Regions from separate parts of the Homo sapiens genome. Here region 1 is linked to region 2. Evidence: fine-mapped expression QTL. Tissue or cell type: whole blood. Region 2 holds a variant in brackets; the other region holds the start of a gene. All regions are shown on one strand. Distances are between the middles of the regions.

The links. PIP is the estimated chance that this variant, and not a neighbour inherited with it, causes the effect.
Region 1: it holds the start of BNIP3L, and the variant in region 2 is fine-mapped to the expression of BNIP3L in whole blood (TOPMed, PIP above 0.99). The same link has a PIP of 0.9 or more in blood mononuclear cells.

What each region holds. Positions count from the first base shown.
Region 1 is chr8:26,378,414-26,386,518 of GRCh38, reverse strand. It overlaps BNIP3L (BCL2 interacting protein 3 like), which reads right to left and starts at 3,465. Exons shown (of 6, transcript NM_004331.3): 1 at 3,289-3,465. The coding sequence starts at 3,388. It also overlaps the pseudogene SDAD1P1. RefSeq lists silencers at 672-966, 2,716-3,305 and enhancers at 3,516-3,815, 3,789-4,988.
Region 2 is chr8:26,437,845-26,445,949 of GRCh38, reverse strand. No RefSeq gene overlaps it. Among named protein-coding and RNA genes, the nearest start is that of BNIP3L, 59 kb to the right of the region's middle. RefSeq lists an enhancer at 4,855-4,984. The variant G/A (reference allele first, on the strand shown) is at 4,904.

The DNA of each region.
Region 1 (8,105 bases), 59 kb after region 2:
AAGCTGCCATGAGCTATGACTGTACCACTGCACTCCAGTTTGGGTGACAAAGCAAGACCCTGTCTCAACAAAACAAAAAACAAAAAAGAACAAGAAAATTTGAAAAGAAAAAAAAGGCTATACTTCTCAACAACAAGAATTATACTACGATTTACACTACTACTTTGATTTTCCTTATTCGGCCCTATTGAATCTTATTCAAACATTCTTAAGGAAGTTGATAGTTTTCTTAACAATAAAACAAACTGGACAACATCCTTTTGACTTGGAAGGAGTTTGGGTATTTGCCCTGTAATTTTTAATGAAAGTGAACAGTCTCTCCACAGCGGTAAAGTTAAAAAAAAATCACAAAAATACTTCACTATTCAAATACTTCAGTAATTTGCTATTGAAACCCTGCTTTGACCCCTGAACCAAAGATAAAATCCCAAACGCAAGATAATCTGTACATTTCTTCTCCTGTTTTTCAGTTGTGCAACTTTACCCAACAAAGTCCTTCGACTTATCAGCAATTTGGATAGTACTAGATGCCTGAATAAGTTGTTTTGCCCATTGCCCAAAAATCACTTCAAGGAATTCAATGAGGCTTCTTGTTTTGTTCAGTACAGTGTTGTGTAATGAGCTAAAAAAACGAACAGAGTGAGAGGCAAGAAGGGAGTAATTAAATATGGCAATATCTAAAAGCTTTTCAGAAAGCTCACCCTATCCCACACAAAATACTTTCTATCTAGCAGATGTCCCAAAGCAACATTTTGATGTCCCATGCAGGCTGAGTGTACTTCCACCTCTGTAAGAGCTGATGTCAGCCAAGCAGGAACCGACTGGCCAAAGACATCAAACTCCTCATAGGTCTGTCAGACACCAAGATAAACAATGACATATGGCTCAGCCCCCGCCCTCGCCCCTTTTTTTTTTTGAGACAGAGTCTTGCTCTGTCACCCAGGCTGGAGTGCAGTGGCGTGATCTCGGCTCACTGCAACCTCTGCCTCCCGGATTCAAGCGATTCTCCTGCCTCAGCCGCCTGAATAGCTGGGATTACAGGCGCCCAACACCAAGCCAGGCTAATTTTTGTATTTTCAGTAGAGAGGGGGTTGTTCTCTCACCATGTTGGCCAGGCTGGTCTCGAACTCCTGACCTCAAGTGATCCACTCGCTTTGGCCTCCCAAAGTGCTAGGATGACAGGTGTGAGCCATCGTGCCCTGCCTGGCTCAGCCCTTTTTGTTGTTGTTGTTAAAGGGTCAAAGGAAGATGAAAATCCCTTTGCTTTCAGTGAAATCACGTACACCTACCAAGTATCTTCACTCATAAGAAAACTGTACAATTAAGAAACAATACTAAAAAGAAACAGAAAGGTTGGCCACCTTTGTCAATTAGGTAGAATAACACACTGACAAAATAAGACACACACACCAGCAGGAGGTTCTGCACCACTGAAAAGAAGCCGGTGCGATGGCTCAAGCCTGTAATCCCAGCACTTTGGGAGGCCCAGGCGGGCGGATGACGTGAGGTCAGGAGTTTGAGACCAGCCTGGCCAACATGGTGAGAGACCAACAACCCCCTCTCTACTGAAAATACAAAAATTAGCCTAGCTTGGTGTCGGGCGCCTGTAATCCCAGCTACATGGCGAAACTTCGTCTCTACTAAAAATACAAAAATTAGCTGGGCGGGTGGCAGGCACCTGTAGTCCCAGCTACTCGGGAGGCTGAGGCAGAAGAATCGCTTGAACCTGGGAGGCGGAGGTTGTAGACAGAGCGAGACTCTACCTCAAAAAAAAAAAAAAAAAAAAAAAAATGTCCTCAAAAGAGCAGTAGACAGGCTGAACATGAGAACCTCTGCTTTGCTCCCAGCCGGTTGTGAACTTGGACAAGGCCATTTACTCTAGACCTGTTTCTCTACAGGCAAACAACAGGAGGCAGTTAGCTAGCTCTGAAGTTTCTTCCCATTCTAAAATCTAAGACAGTATGCTAAACATGGGCAAATAACTTAAAATTGCATAGGAATATGTGATACAAGTAACGTTTAAAGACTCATACATTCATCCTAATTTACTGTGGGAAATAATATAACCATCTTACATTCTGGAATATATGACACTTAAAGGTTTTGGGAATTAACCCATCAAAACCTGGAGCAGCAGCATCCATCTTAAAATCTCCAAACTCCATCGCTACCTGGTGAGGGCTGAAACTCTCTTCCCTAAAATAATCTTCAGGCCACACTGGAAGCACCTCCCTCTTACGAAAGATACTGCATGACCTTTAAGCATCCAAGTGGTTTTGAAAAGACTTCATCTGGCCATATGCTCACTGCTCCCATTACCTCTTTCCCAAGAGTTGAATTAAAGAAAGGTTAGGCAAGAACCCTTCCAAGAAGGCTCCCGGTTCTCACGACTAGGAACAATCTGAGGACAAGATGTCTGGGCAGCGGAATGTTATGAAAAGACCCTGGCCTGGGTTGTCTATCAGCCTCGTCCGTTAACTTTCAACTGCCCGAGTGCGTTTTTAATTCCGTTTCTTTAAATGCATGGCCCCAGACTCCCTGACGTGTGCAATCTTGGGTGGTTCAGGAGGCTGCTCTCAGCTTTACTGGGCGCACAACCCATCGCTTTAAAAAAAAAAAAATCACTTGGGCAACTTCGAGAAATCTAATAAAAAAATAAAAAAGGAAAAAGGAGAAGCAAGGCACAGCCTCTCACCCCACACGTGACTGAAGCCAACCCTAGACGAGCAAATGAATTTTCCTGACAAACGTGTGGCAACAAAGGAATGCTCGCTGGGGGGCTCCCGCGCCCGCCAGACGCTGCCCGCCCGCGAGCCCCGCACACCTGATCCCCGACACGTCCCGCGGCAGCCGCCCGCCCCGCCCCGCTCCCGCGCGTCCATCCCCCGGCGTCCCCGCCGCACGTCCCCATCCCGGCCCACGTCCCCTCCGCGGCCCGCTCCGCCCACCCGGCCTCCCCGCCCCCCAGGCCCGCCCCCGCCCCGCCCCGCCCGGCTCCGCTGCTGGGGACCACCCCCCGCACCAGGGGGATCCGCGCTACCCGCGCCGCTCCCGGACCGCGAGCCCAAACGGCCCCGGGCCCAAGACCCCAGGAGGCAACAGAGAGGCCCGGAGCAAGGCAGGCGCCCCTCCTCTTGACAGGGGACGGGAGCTGTCAGTCACCTGGACATCCCATGCCTGAGCCAATGAGCTGCCTTCTCCTCCCGCCTCCCGCGCCGCGCCGGTGGCGGCGGCCGGGGCTGCTCCTCCTCCCCCATCCCCTTCACAGAGCCTCGGCCCCGCACTCACTGTTGAGGCCGGCCGGCGGGGGCAGAGACTGCTCATTTTCCTCGCAGTTGTTGTTGTTGTTGTGCAGGGGCGGCGGCGGCTCGACTAGGTGGGACGACATTGTCGGACAGCTGGCAGGACTGCGGCAGCAGCAGGACCGTCTCCGGCACTCAGGCAGCAACACAACAAGCCGAGTCCGCCGCCCCCTTTTCTGCGCCTGCGCCGTCCCTCCCCTGCCCCTGACGTCAGGGCCCGCCCAGGCCACGTGATGACAACACAACAAGCGACCGGACGGGGCAGGGGCGCTCCCCTGCGGGCCCCGGACGTGGAGACGCTCGAGTCAGGCTGACGCGCGCGCCGGGAACGAACTCTTGCGTGTGACTTGGGATGACCGGATGGGATGAGTGATGCCAGTGGCAGTGGGAGAGAGGATGAGGAGAAACGGAATGAGGAAGTGCGCTCCTGTGTTCGCGCCCGTGCCTCCTCTCACACAGGCTCCACAGTGCTTCACCCAGCCCTGCGCACGCATCTGTTTTCTACCTCTTAGGACTCACTTCTGCAATAGGTGTCTTGGGGACACAAAGGAATCCCCAAACCCAGGTGCCTCCACGTGTAAACTCCAAATAAAGCTGCTGAAACATCAACACTCCATACGGGAAACAAGGGAAGGCCGCCCCCAAATTTAATTGTTACAGAATTTTTAAAATGTCGATTACAAACACACCATCATTCTGAAAAAAAGAGAAAGAAGAAAGGGGAAGAAAGAAAAAAGAAAAATTCAGGAAAACAGAGAGAAGAAAGTACTCACCCAAATCCCATCGACTAATCGATTTCTGGGACATGACGTGGGAAGCCGTTTATCCTGTACGTGGATGACATTAAACTATGTTCCTGAGCACACCTCCTACTTCACATCTCCATGTCTTCGTCCAGTCTCCTTGGTCTGATTTATGAGTGACATATGTTTCTCGCAGTCTCTAACTTGTCTTTTAATTTGTTTTTTTCACTCTGTAGAAGCTTAAGGTTTTCATGTAATCAGATTTATCATTCTTACATGGCTTGGGGAGACAGTCACACCAAGATTACTAATCTATAATTCCCTTATAACTTTTTCTAATTTTCTTATAGGCTTAACTTTACATTTAGAGCTCTAATCCATCTGAAATTTATTTTCCATATGCTGTAAATTATTTAACTTCAATTCTTCCCAATTTTGTAGCCCATTGACCTAATAATATTAATTTTAAGCCATCCTTTCTACACTGATTTGAAATTGCACCTTTGTCACTCTCTGAATGACCACAAAAATGTGAGTCTGTTTCAGGGCTATCTGCAATACCTCTGTTAGATAACTATTAAAGTTTCTCTTCCTTTGTCTTTTTCAGATGTTAATGGCTAGTTACTCTTCAGATGAACTTAAAAATGGACTTGTCCAAGATTGACCTTGTGTTGGTAATTATTGAAGCTATGTAATACATTAAAGTATTCCTCTAATTTTTTAATATATTTGAAAAAGTCCATGCTAAAAGGTTTTTTTTAAGGATTGATTTGTCAAATCCCTTTGCAAATTCTTTTAAGATTTTGGTCAGAAATGAACTCTATTAATAGATTGAGTGCTGTTTCCGGTCATACCCGGAAGCAGGAGTTCAAGCCGCAGCTGGTAGGGATTGGCGGCTGCTGGCCATCTGAGTTTTATTAAAACTGCTCGCCGCGAAGCCAGTCTTCAGCCAGAATGTCCAGCAGAAACAACAACAAGCTGCCCAGCAACCTGACTGCAGTTACAGAATCTGATGAAGCGAGACCCACCACCCTCCATCTAGGAGTTTCTACAGCAGTATAATCACTACACATCCAATGTGGAGATTTTCAAATTGCAACCATATAAACCCGGTAAAGAACTAGCAGAGCTGGTGGTGTTTATGGCACAGAACGTCCTAAATATGTGCATCTGAATAATAGGAGAGAAAGAGAGAAACTTCAGAAGAGCCTTTGCTTTGTTATAGATTAGTTACTGCTACCCAGGGTATCTAAGTAATTTTCCTCAAGTGGTGAAAGATCTTCTGTCCTGTAATCATACTGTATTGGATCCAGATCTTCGAATGACATTTTGCAAAGCTTTGATCTTGCTGAGAAATAAGAATCTCATCAATCCATCAAGCCTGCTAGAACTCTTCTTTGAACTTCTCTGTTGCCATGATAAGCTTCTGCAAAAGACTTCATACACATATATCGTGACTGATATCAAGAATATAAATGCAAAACACAAGAATAAAGTGGATGTAGTATTGTAAAATTTCATGTATACCATGTTGAGAGATAGCAATGCAACTGCAGCCAAGATGTCTTTAGATGTTATGATTGAACTCTACAGAAGGAACATCTGGAATGATACCAAAACTGTCAATGTTATCACAACTGCATGTTTCTCTTAGGTCACCAAGATATTAGTTGCTGCTTTGACATTCTTTCTTGGAAAAGATGAAGATGAAAAACAGGCCAGTGACTCCGAATCTGAGGATGACGGACCAACAGCAAGAGACCTGCTAGCACAGTATGCTACAGGGAACAAAGTTCCCAAAACAAGAAAAAGTTGGAAAAGGCAATGAAAGTGCTCAAGAAACAAAAGAAGAAGAAAAAACCAGAGGTGTTTAACTTTTTAGCCGTTCACTTGATTCATGATCCCCAAGATTTTGCAGAAAAACTACTAAAGCAGCTTGAGTGCTGTAAGGAGAGGTTGGAAGTGAAGATGATGCTCATGAACCTCATCTCAGATTGGTGGGAATTCATAAGCTCTTCCTCTTCAATTTCTATCACTTTTTGCGAAGGTTTCTGCAGCCCCACCAAAGAGAAGTAACAAAGAACCTTCTGTTTGCTGCACAAGCATCTCATCACCTAGTACACCCAGCGATTATTCAATCATTGCTTATGACTGTGGCCAACAATTTTGTTAACGACAAGAACTCTGGAGAAGCCATGACAATAGGAATCAATGCTGTAAAAGAGACAACAGCTCAGTGTCCTCTGGCCATGACTGAAAAGCTTCTCCAAGACCTGGCTCAGTATAAAACACACAAGGATAATAATGTAATGATGTCTGCTAGAACTTTGATTCGGCTCTTCCGAACACTGAATCCTCAGATGCTGCAGAAGAAATTCTGGGGTAAGCCTACAGAAGCCTCCATAGAAGCAAGAGTACAAGAATATGGAGAATTAGATGCTAAAGGTTACATTCCAGGAGCAGAAGTTCTGGAAGTTGAGAAAGAGGAGAGTGCTGAAAATGATGAAGATGGATGGGAAAGTACCAGTCTCAGTGAGGAGGAGGATGCCGATGGCGAATGGGTTGATGTGCAACACTCTTCCAATGAAGAACAGCAAGAAATTTCCAAGAAGCTGAACACCATGCCCATGGAGGAGCAGAAAGCCAAAACTGCAGCCGTCAGCACCAGTCGAGTTTTAAGTTAGGAAGACTTCCAGAAAATCCGCATGGCGCAAATGAGAAAAGAACTTGACGCTGTCCCCGGGAAATCCCAGAAGAGGAAATATATTGAAATCGACAGTGATGAAGAGCCGAGGGGTGAATTACTTTCTCTTCCGGACATTGAACGCCTTCATAAAAAGCCAAAATCTGACAAAGAGACAAGACTAGCAACTGCAATGGCTGGAAAGACAGACCGAAAAGAATTTGTGAGGAAGAAAACCAAAGTGAATCCATTTTCCAGTTCAAAAAGTAAAGAGAAGAAAAAACAGAAGAACTTTATGATGATGTGGTATAGCCAGAATGTCTGGTCAGAAAATAAGCGTTCCTTCTGAGAAAAACAGTTGGCGCTGCGAGATGCCTTTTGAAAAGAGAAAAAGAATGAAGTAACTTCCCAGAAAGTTTTCCATTCCAAGAAGAATGCTAAGTTTGTGTCATTACTCTGAAAATTGGTAAATCAAGCATGTTTGTTTACATTAAAAAGTCCAGAAGCACTATATTATGAAAACTGCTGAAAATGTGGCAGCAATTTGGTGTTTTTATTTTGGGGACAGCTAATGATGGGAAATGTTAATGTAAATAGTGGTGGTAGTGTAATATCATTTATCATTCATGCAAAAAAAAGTATTGAGTGCCTATTAATTGTCACTGTAGATACAAAATGACTGAGTTGTAACTACCCCTTCACTCAAGGCATTGACAGCTTAGTTGTGGGGGTGGACACAGACGTGTATTTACAGTGCAGTGTAAATAGTTCTCTAGTAGAGGTAGGTCCACATTTCTATGCAGACACTGAGGCCTTATGGACTAACTCTGTGGGGATGGGGGTTATATATTCCTGTAAAACAAAGCAAAACAGGACAATTGTAACAAGAGTAAGAGGTTCTTTCTTGCATATAATAGGCTTACCTGCTGAAAACAGGCCCCTGCTGTACAGATTTTGGGTACATAATTTAGCTCTTTTAGTCAATCCAAAAGATTTAAATGACCCCCGCTTTTTTTTTTTAATGCCATGTAAAGGCTTTTTGGTTAAGACCTCACTTTTAAAATTGCCTTAAGTGTAAATAGTACCTTTGGAATGTATTTAGTTCATCATTTGAGATGCCTTCATACTGGTTTCCTCAACCTTCCTTCACCCTGTATTATTTTCAGCCCACCGTTTGTCTCAATAAAAGGTTTCTAATGCCAAATGATAAAAAAGAAATTGAGGGGATTATTGACATATTTATAGAATTGTTTTCCCAGTCAGGACTACGAGATCCCACTTTGTTCTATTTTCCTTTTAGGTGCTCCTTTCAAAAGGTTTTAAACTTTCAAAAAAAAGTTTTTTATTAATCATGTGCTATTTTATTTTTATTTTTTT
Region 2 (8,105 bases):
GGGAGTCCCAGAGAAAATGGTGCAAGGAGCAATGCCCAGTGGCCAGCCATCCTCAATGTCATGGCCCCGGAGGCCAGAACAGTAGAGAAATTCAAGGTGCGGAGACCGGCTCCCTCACATGGGCAACCTGGCCCACTGGCTCTTACCATTCATATATCTGTGAACATGGCCTTATTTGGAAATAGTATCGTAGCAGATCTGATTATGTAAAGATGAGGTCCTTTTGGATTAGAGTGGGCCTCATAAGACAAGGGGGTTGGGGCGCACAGACACACACCTGCCCTGTGGGCAGGTGAGGAAACTGGAGCAAATGCCAGCTCCCTGAACAGAACAGAGTGAGCCTGACAGTTGGGCATCTGTCCAAACCACACGAGCAGGCCCGGCAGGAAAAGTACCTGTCCAGTGGACAAGCGGCCCATGCAATCAGGACAGCTGGGAAGAGGCTGATGCTTTCAGCCACGCTTCATCTCCTTGTCCTCATTTGGGCAGAGGTAAAGAAAGAGCACTACTGGCTGCACATGGTGGCTCACGCCTGTAATCCCAGCACTTTGGGAGGCTGAGGCAGGCGGATCACTTGAAGTCAGGAGACCAGCATGGCCAACATGGTGAATTCTCATCTCTAACAAAAATACAAAAATTACCCGGGTGTGGTGGCACATGCCTGTAATCACAGCTCGGGGGACTGAGGCAGGAGAACTGCTTGAACCCAGGAGGCAGAGGTTGCAGTGAGCCGAGATCTTGCCACTGCACTCCAGCCTGGACGACAGAGCGAGACTGTCTCACATACATACATACATGCAAAAAATATTTTAAAAATAAAAAAGAAAGCGCACTGCCTAGCATCACTTTGGCAGATTCATCTCCACAACCTGTGATCATCCTGTTCAGTTGTTATGATTTGGACTAGGTGGGCCCATGGCTCAAAGGGTGGGAGTGTGACCCACGCTAGCCCATCAGGATACCACGAAGCCCTGGACACAGCAGTGGGGTGAGGCGTGAGCATGGGCCTTGTGTAAGCAGGAGTAGACTCCTAGTGGAAGGGTTGCTGCGGACTTTGGGGGAGACTGTTTCTTCTGGGATTGTCTTCTGTAAGCCAGATGCAACCAGGGTGGGCAGAGAGTAATCGTAGCCACCTCACAGTGAGATCCTTCCTGAGAATGAAGCAGGACATGCTCTCTACCAAGGACAGTAAAGCCACTCCACTCTACTTCAGACATTGCAAGCAGATAGACTCCCTGTTCCTCCTTTAAGCCAGAGGTTCTCTGACACTCTCAACTAGAGCTGCCCTCAAACACCTGTTGTGAGTTGAATCGGGTCCCCCCAAAAGATATGTCCAAGTCCTAACCCTAGGTATCTGTGAACATGGCCTTATTTGGAAACAGGATCTTAGCAGATCTGATTATGTAAAGACGAGGTCCTGTTGGATTAGAGTGGGCCTCATAAGACAAGGGGGTTGGGGCACACAGACACGCACCGGGGAGGATGCCACATGAAAACAGAGGCGGAGATGGGGGTGACGTGTCTACAGGCCCAGGAACACCAGGGATTGCCAGCAACTACCAGAAGCTGGGAGAAAGCCATGGAATTCCCCTCAGATTCTCTCAGAACCCCCAGAAAAAACCAACCCTCCTGACACCTGATCCTGGCCTTCCACCTTCCAGAACTGTGGGGGGAAAAATGCATGTTGTTTCCATCTGCTTTGTGGTACTTTGTTACGGCAGCCCCAGGAGACTAATGCAACACCTCACGTATGTGCTGAGCATGGCGACATCTCCCACCTCTTCCTTCCAGGAAACACGCCCAAGAGGCCTTTATGAAGGGGGAACTATGGTCTGCCATATTTACCTGAAGATGCAGTTTGGGCAGCTGTTTCCATCACATGCGGGGCCTCTGGGCTCTCCTGCCCGACTCTTCCCCAGTAGCTATGCTAAAAGCAATCTTAGAGTAGGCCCTCCTGATATCTGGCCTGGATTGCTGTAAATCATCTGCCTTCTGATTCTCTCTTGACCCATCCTCCACACCGCCTCTGTTTCCCAAATGGATTTTTATCATTCCTCGGATGAAACCTCTCTATTGATTACCTACGTTCTATAAGAAAATTCCAAGCTCTTCAACATGTCATTCAAGGGTCTGAAGAGTCTCATCTCCACTTCTCTGTGTCTTGTCTGCCCACACTTCTCTGCCACATGCCCTGTAATTTGATGATATTAAATTTTTTGATTGTAGGCTGGGGGCGGTGGCTCACGCCTGTAATCCCAGCACTTTGGGAGGCTGAGGCGGGTGGATCACTTGAGGTCAGGAGTTCAAGATCAGCCTGGCCAACATGGTGAAACCCCGTCTCTACTAAAAATACAAAAATTAGCCAGGCATGGTGGCAGGCACCTGTAATCCCAGCTACTGGGGATGCTGAGGCAGGAGAATTGCTTGAACCCAGGAAGCAGAGGTTGCAGTGAGCCAAGATCGTGTCACTGCACTCTAGCCTGGGCGACAAAGCAAGAATCTGTCTCTAAATAAATAAATAAATAAATAGCCTGTAAATGTTCCACACACTTTCACAGCTCCATGTTTTTGCAAATGCAGTTCTATGCAAAATGTTCTGCCTGCTAGTTGGCTCACACAGGATTCAGTCTAGCCCCCTTCACCTACCTGCCCTCCCATATACAGAAGAAGCTGGAGAAGTGAAATCCTCTCTTTCCTGGCTCCCTTGCTGCTAAGGATAGCCACATGACCCAGTTCTGGCTAGTGGGATATAAGCAGAAATCCACAGGAAGGTTTCTGCTTTCCTGATAAAAGGGGAAATCATAGCTGGCCTCCCCCTTTCTCCTTTCAGTGTGGACACGATGCCTGGAGCTGCTGCAGCCAACCTGCAGCCATGTCTTAGAGGACAAGAGAATTTTAGAAACCTTAGTCCCAACACCACTGAGCCAATGTACCACCTTTAGTGCCTACCTCTGGGCTTATTATATGAGAAAATAACCTTCTATTTGTTTAAACCTTACTAGTCATGTGTTCTATGACTTGCTGCTGAACGCATTTCTAATCAATACACTGGTACTGTTCATCTTTCTAGATCTTTCCAGGTAGCTTGTTGCTTCCTATGAGAAGTATTCCCAAACTTCCTGGTCAGACTATGACTTCCTCCTGGAAGCATCCATGACACTGTGTACTTACCTGGGTTGCAGTACACATCACGCTGTAACTAATTGCTTACTTCCTGCATAGGCTGTGAGCTCTGATATTATTCTTTGTGTAGAATAATATCATGCATGCTGGGACCTAGCAGAGTGGCTCACACAGAGCAGCGGCTCCTAAAATGCATCGCAAGTGAAGAATTCCATTTCCAGGAGGATATCATGCTATATTATAACCTCTGGCTAGGCTTCTCACCCTTTGAAATCTACAATGGCTGACTAAACTTGCTAACTCATTTCTATAGGCAGAATGTGCTCTGCAAGCCAATCTATCCCCCAGATATTTGTCGAGGTCTCAGGCACAAGCTGCTATGGTATGCTCTGTACAGGATAAAAAAAGAAAGAGAATATTTTAATATGGAAGTTAATGTTTCCCTTGCATGTCTTTAATAACATAGCCAAGGGTGGCCAGGCGTGGTGGCTCATTCCTATAATCCCAGCACTTTGGGAGGTCGAGGTGGGTGGATCACTTGAGGTCAGGATTTCAAGGCCAGCCTGGCCAACATGGTGAAACCCATTCTCCACTAAAAATAAAAAAGTTAGCCAGGAGTGGTGACACATACCTGTAGTCCCAGCTACGTGGGAGGCTGAGGCAGAAGAATCTCTTGAACTTGGGTGGAGATTGCAGTCAGCTGAGATCACGCCACTGCACTCCAGCCTGGGTGACAGAGTGAGACTCCTTCTCAAAAACAAACAAACAAACAAAACATAGCCATGGGTGTGGAAGCAAGACATATTTGTAATATTTGCTTAGAACGGTACTTCTCAATCCTGGCTATGTTAGAATGACATGGGAGCTTTAAAAACTACAAATGCCCAGGTCCTATTTTCAGAGAGTCTGATTCAGCTGGTCTGGTCCCCTCTCCCTAACCCCTAATCTTATTTTTTAAAGCTTCCTAGGTGATTGTAACATGTAACCAGGGTGTGCACCCCTGATTTAAAAGAAGGATAAGTGTGGACTGGGAAGATTTCTTGGAGGATGTGACCTATGGGTCTTGAAGTACAGGGGACATTTGGACAACAGGGAGAAGAGGTATTTGAGGAATGAGGATTGCTGAGTGAGGAGAGGCAGGAATAAAGCTTCAGTGTGGCTGTCAGCCAATCAGCCACACTGGGGGATTTTTAAATTTCTACTAAAAATTGAAAAATAAAAAAATAAATTAGGCAGGCTTGGTGGCATGCATCTGTAGTCCTGGTTGTTTGGGAAACTAAGGTGGGAGGATCACTTGAGCCCGAGAGGTTGAAGCTGCAGTCAGCCCTGATCACGACACTACACTCCAGCCCAGGTGACAGATTAAAACCCTGTCTCGAAAAAATTAAAACTAAAAATAAGTTCCAGCGGGCAGACAGCAGAAGGAGACGATCTCAGGAGGCAGCAGAGGCAGCGGACAGTTGGGGAAACAGCCCCAGCCCCGGGCTCAGGAGCCCTGCACTTCCGCCCTGATTTCATCCCCACTCCACTGTGTACCCTTGTGCATGGCATCCGCGGGGTCTGTCACTTCCCTACCTGCAAACCAGATGCTTCCTGCCTCCCGTGATCTTCCCGGTCTGATTTTTCACATTTGTGTTCTGAACACCAGGCCAGGCCTGCGTGAGTCAGGACAAAAGTTAGATGGCTGCCTCCCCTGTCCCGCCTGCCCCTTCCCCCACAGCCGCTACAACTATGGAATTGGCAACCTCGCTGCACTGTGCAATGCAGAGCAGGAGGCAGA[G/A]GAGGGAAGTTGGTGGGAAACGGCATGAAAGACACCGGGCGAGCAGACAGCACTGTGCGAAGGAGGAGCTGTGCCGGACCCAGGGCCCCACTGCCAGGCCACTGCGGTGAGGGGGGCTGCCCCTTGCCCAGGATGGCCTTGCACTGAGTGGAGCCACCTTGCTCCCCACAGCCAGGACTGACTGATACCAGGAGGCAAGGCCCTCGCCTCAAGGTGTGACATCACAGCTCTGCGGTGTGGCTTATGTTCCAGAACCGTCCCCGGTGGATTAAGCCAAACATAAGCTTTACTTGAGACCTCATCTTTGCTGGGCCCAGCTCTTCCCCGTATCTGTCCGCTTACCTCTCTCCAGTACAGCTTTTCCTGCACAGCGCTCGTTCAATTAACCACATTCATGTTTGTCTCAGGTTCTGTTTCTCAAGACTTGATCTAAGACACGGTGCTTTCAATAAATAAAAGAAAATGCCACGGACAGATAAAACGTGTATGGGAGGCGACCACAAAACAGGGGCTAAAGGAAACTCCCAGATTCATTTTAGAAAAAGAAGAAAAGAGAGTTACAAGAGTCTGATTGTGGGGGAGGGAAGCAGAGAAAGAGCAGCTTCCTGTTTGTGTCTGGAGTGCAGCACACTGAGCAGTGTTTTGCCTGGTTTATTTCCAAAGTATTGCAGGGCAGCTGAGAGCTTCCACAGTAAGGATCAACCCATCTTTTTGACCAGCCCCGGTCAATGAATTACCTGACTCATGCAAGTCAGTAGACTCCACCTGTTCTTTGTTTTTCGGTTTTCGTTGTCTTTTTTAAACAGAGTCTTGCTCTGTCACTCAGGCTGGAATGCAATGGAGTGATCTTGGCTCACTGAAACCTCCGCCTCCCGGGTTCAAGTGATTGTCCTGCCTCAGCCTCCTGAGTAGCTGGGATTACAGGCACGTACCACCATGCCCAGCTAATTTTTGTATTTTTAGTAGAGATGGGGTTTCACCATGTTGCCCAGGCTGGTCTCAAACTCCTGGCCTCAAGTGATCTGCCCGTCTCGGCCTCCCAAAGTGCTGGGCTTACAGGCGTGAGCCACCGTGCCCAGCCAGTAGATCCTTTATGATGTACCTCACTTAAAAGCTACATTTTAAACGGAATAGTCAAACTCCAATAATGACTGTGGTCTTTTTCCTTTTAGAGACCAGACTGATCTACTAATAGTGTAATTCAAAGATGGCTACAAAGGCCAAAACTAGCCAAACCCTCCTGGCCCACTGTGACCACTAAGGTTCCACCTACAAGGACCTAGTGAAAGTCTAATAAAAAGCTGCCTGGCTGGGTGCAGTGGCTCACACCTGTATGTAATCCCAGCACTTTGGGAGGCAGAGGCGGGTGGATCACTTGAGTCCAGGAGTTCGAAACCAGCCTGGGCAATATGGCAAAACTCTGTCTCTACAAAAAAATACGAAAATTAGCTGGGCACAATCACACACAACTGTAGTCCCAGCTACTCAGGAGACTGAGGTAGGGAGGATCGGTTGAGCTGGGAGGTGGAGGTTGCAATGAGCTGAGATCTTGCCATTGCACTCCAGCCTGGGCTATAGAGTGAGACGCTATCTCAAAAAAAAAAAAAAAAAAAAGATAACAGCACTGGGGTCGTCACCAGATCAGAAAGCCAGGAAGAGGGTGCTGCCCAGACCCAGGGTGCCTGGCACTGGCACCCAGCCCCAAGCTCAGCCCAAGCACCTCCTGCCTCTCAGGGCTGGCTGGAGTTTGCTCCCTGATGGGAGACCTGGATTACCCAACCGTCCTCAGACCATATAATACCTAAGTACTTGAGGCACTTCTGACTATTGTCAGCTGAGTCTTGGCTCAAGTTTTGTCGACAAAACGGATTAATTTATAACTAAGGTTAAAAACTCTTAAGTGAAAGTTAACTGATTCTGCCCATTTTCAGGGGAGAATGAGAGACACCTCAGAAGCAACTATGGTGGCTACTGGAGGGTCACATGAGGGATCATGTGGGGACAAGCCCAGATGGTGGACTCTTAGGGACAATTGTTTATAAAATGAGCCAAGCATGGTGGCTCACCCCTATAATCCCACCACTCTGGGAGGCCGAGGCAGGAGGATCACTTAAGACCAGGAGTCCAAGACCAGCTTGGGAACATGGCAAAATCCCGCCTCTACAAAAAATACAACAAAATTGGTGGGGCATAGTGGCACATGCCTATAGTCCCAGCTGCTCGGGAGGCTGAGGTGGGAGATCACTTGGGCCCAGGAGGTCAAGGCTATGGTGAGCGGTGATCACACGACTGTATTTCAGCCTGAGCAACAGAGTAAGACCCTGTCTCAAAAAAAATAAACATAGAAATAAAATGAGTGTGCATCTTACTAAGGTGAATGTGTTTAGAGAACAATCATAACTGACATTCACTGAGCACCTGCTGCTTCTGGACACTGCCCCATACTCTACACGTATCAGCTCAGTTAATCCTCACAATAAACAGATACTATTATCATCCCCCTCCCTTTTTATTGTGGTAAAATCTACATTACATTTGCCATCTTAACCATTTGTAAGTGTACAGTCCAGTGCCAATTAAATGCACACAAATTGTTGTGCAATCATCACCACCATCCACCTCCGGAATGGTTTCATCTTGCAAAACCATAATGCTATGCCCATTAAGCAATCATTCCCTCCTCCCCTTCCCCAGCCTCTGGCAACTCCATCTACTTTCTGTCTCTATGAACTTGACTCCTCTATGTACCTCATATAAGTGGAATCACACAGTACTTTCTTTTTGTGTCTGGTTTATTTCACTTAGCATAATGTCCTCAAGCTTCACCCGTGTTGTGTGTAGCATGTGTCCAAATTTCATTTCTTTTTAAAGCTAGATAATATTCCCTTGTACATTCAGCCGCCATTGTTTATCCGTTCATCCTTTGACGGGCACTTGAGTTGCTTCCACGTTTTGCCTATTCTGAATAGTGCTGCTGTGAACACAGGTGGGCAAGCATCCCTTCCAGCCCCTGCTTTCACTTCTTTGGGGGTAGCCAGAAGTGCAACTGCTGATATTATTTACAGAAGAAGAAGAAATCAGGTGCAGGAGATTAGGCGACTTGCCTAAGTCTGTGTGACTAAGTGTCAGAACCAGGATTCCTCCCGAGCAGACTGGCTCCAAGCTCCTGGCTCCGGACCACCGTGCTCACTGCCTCTCACTT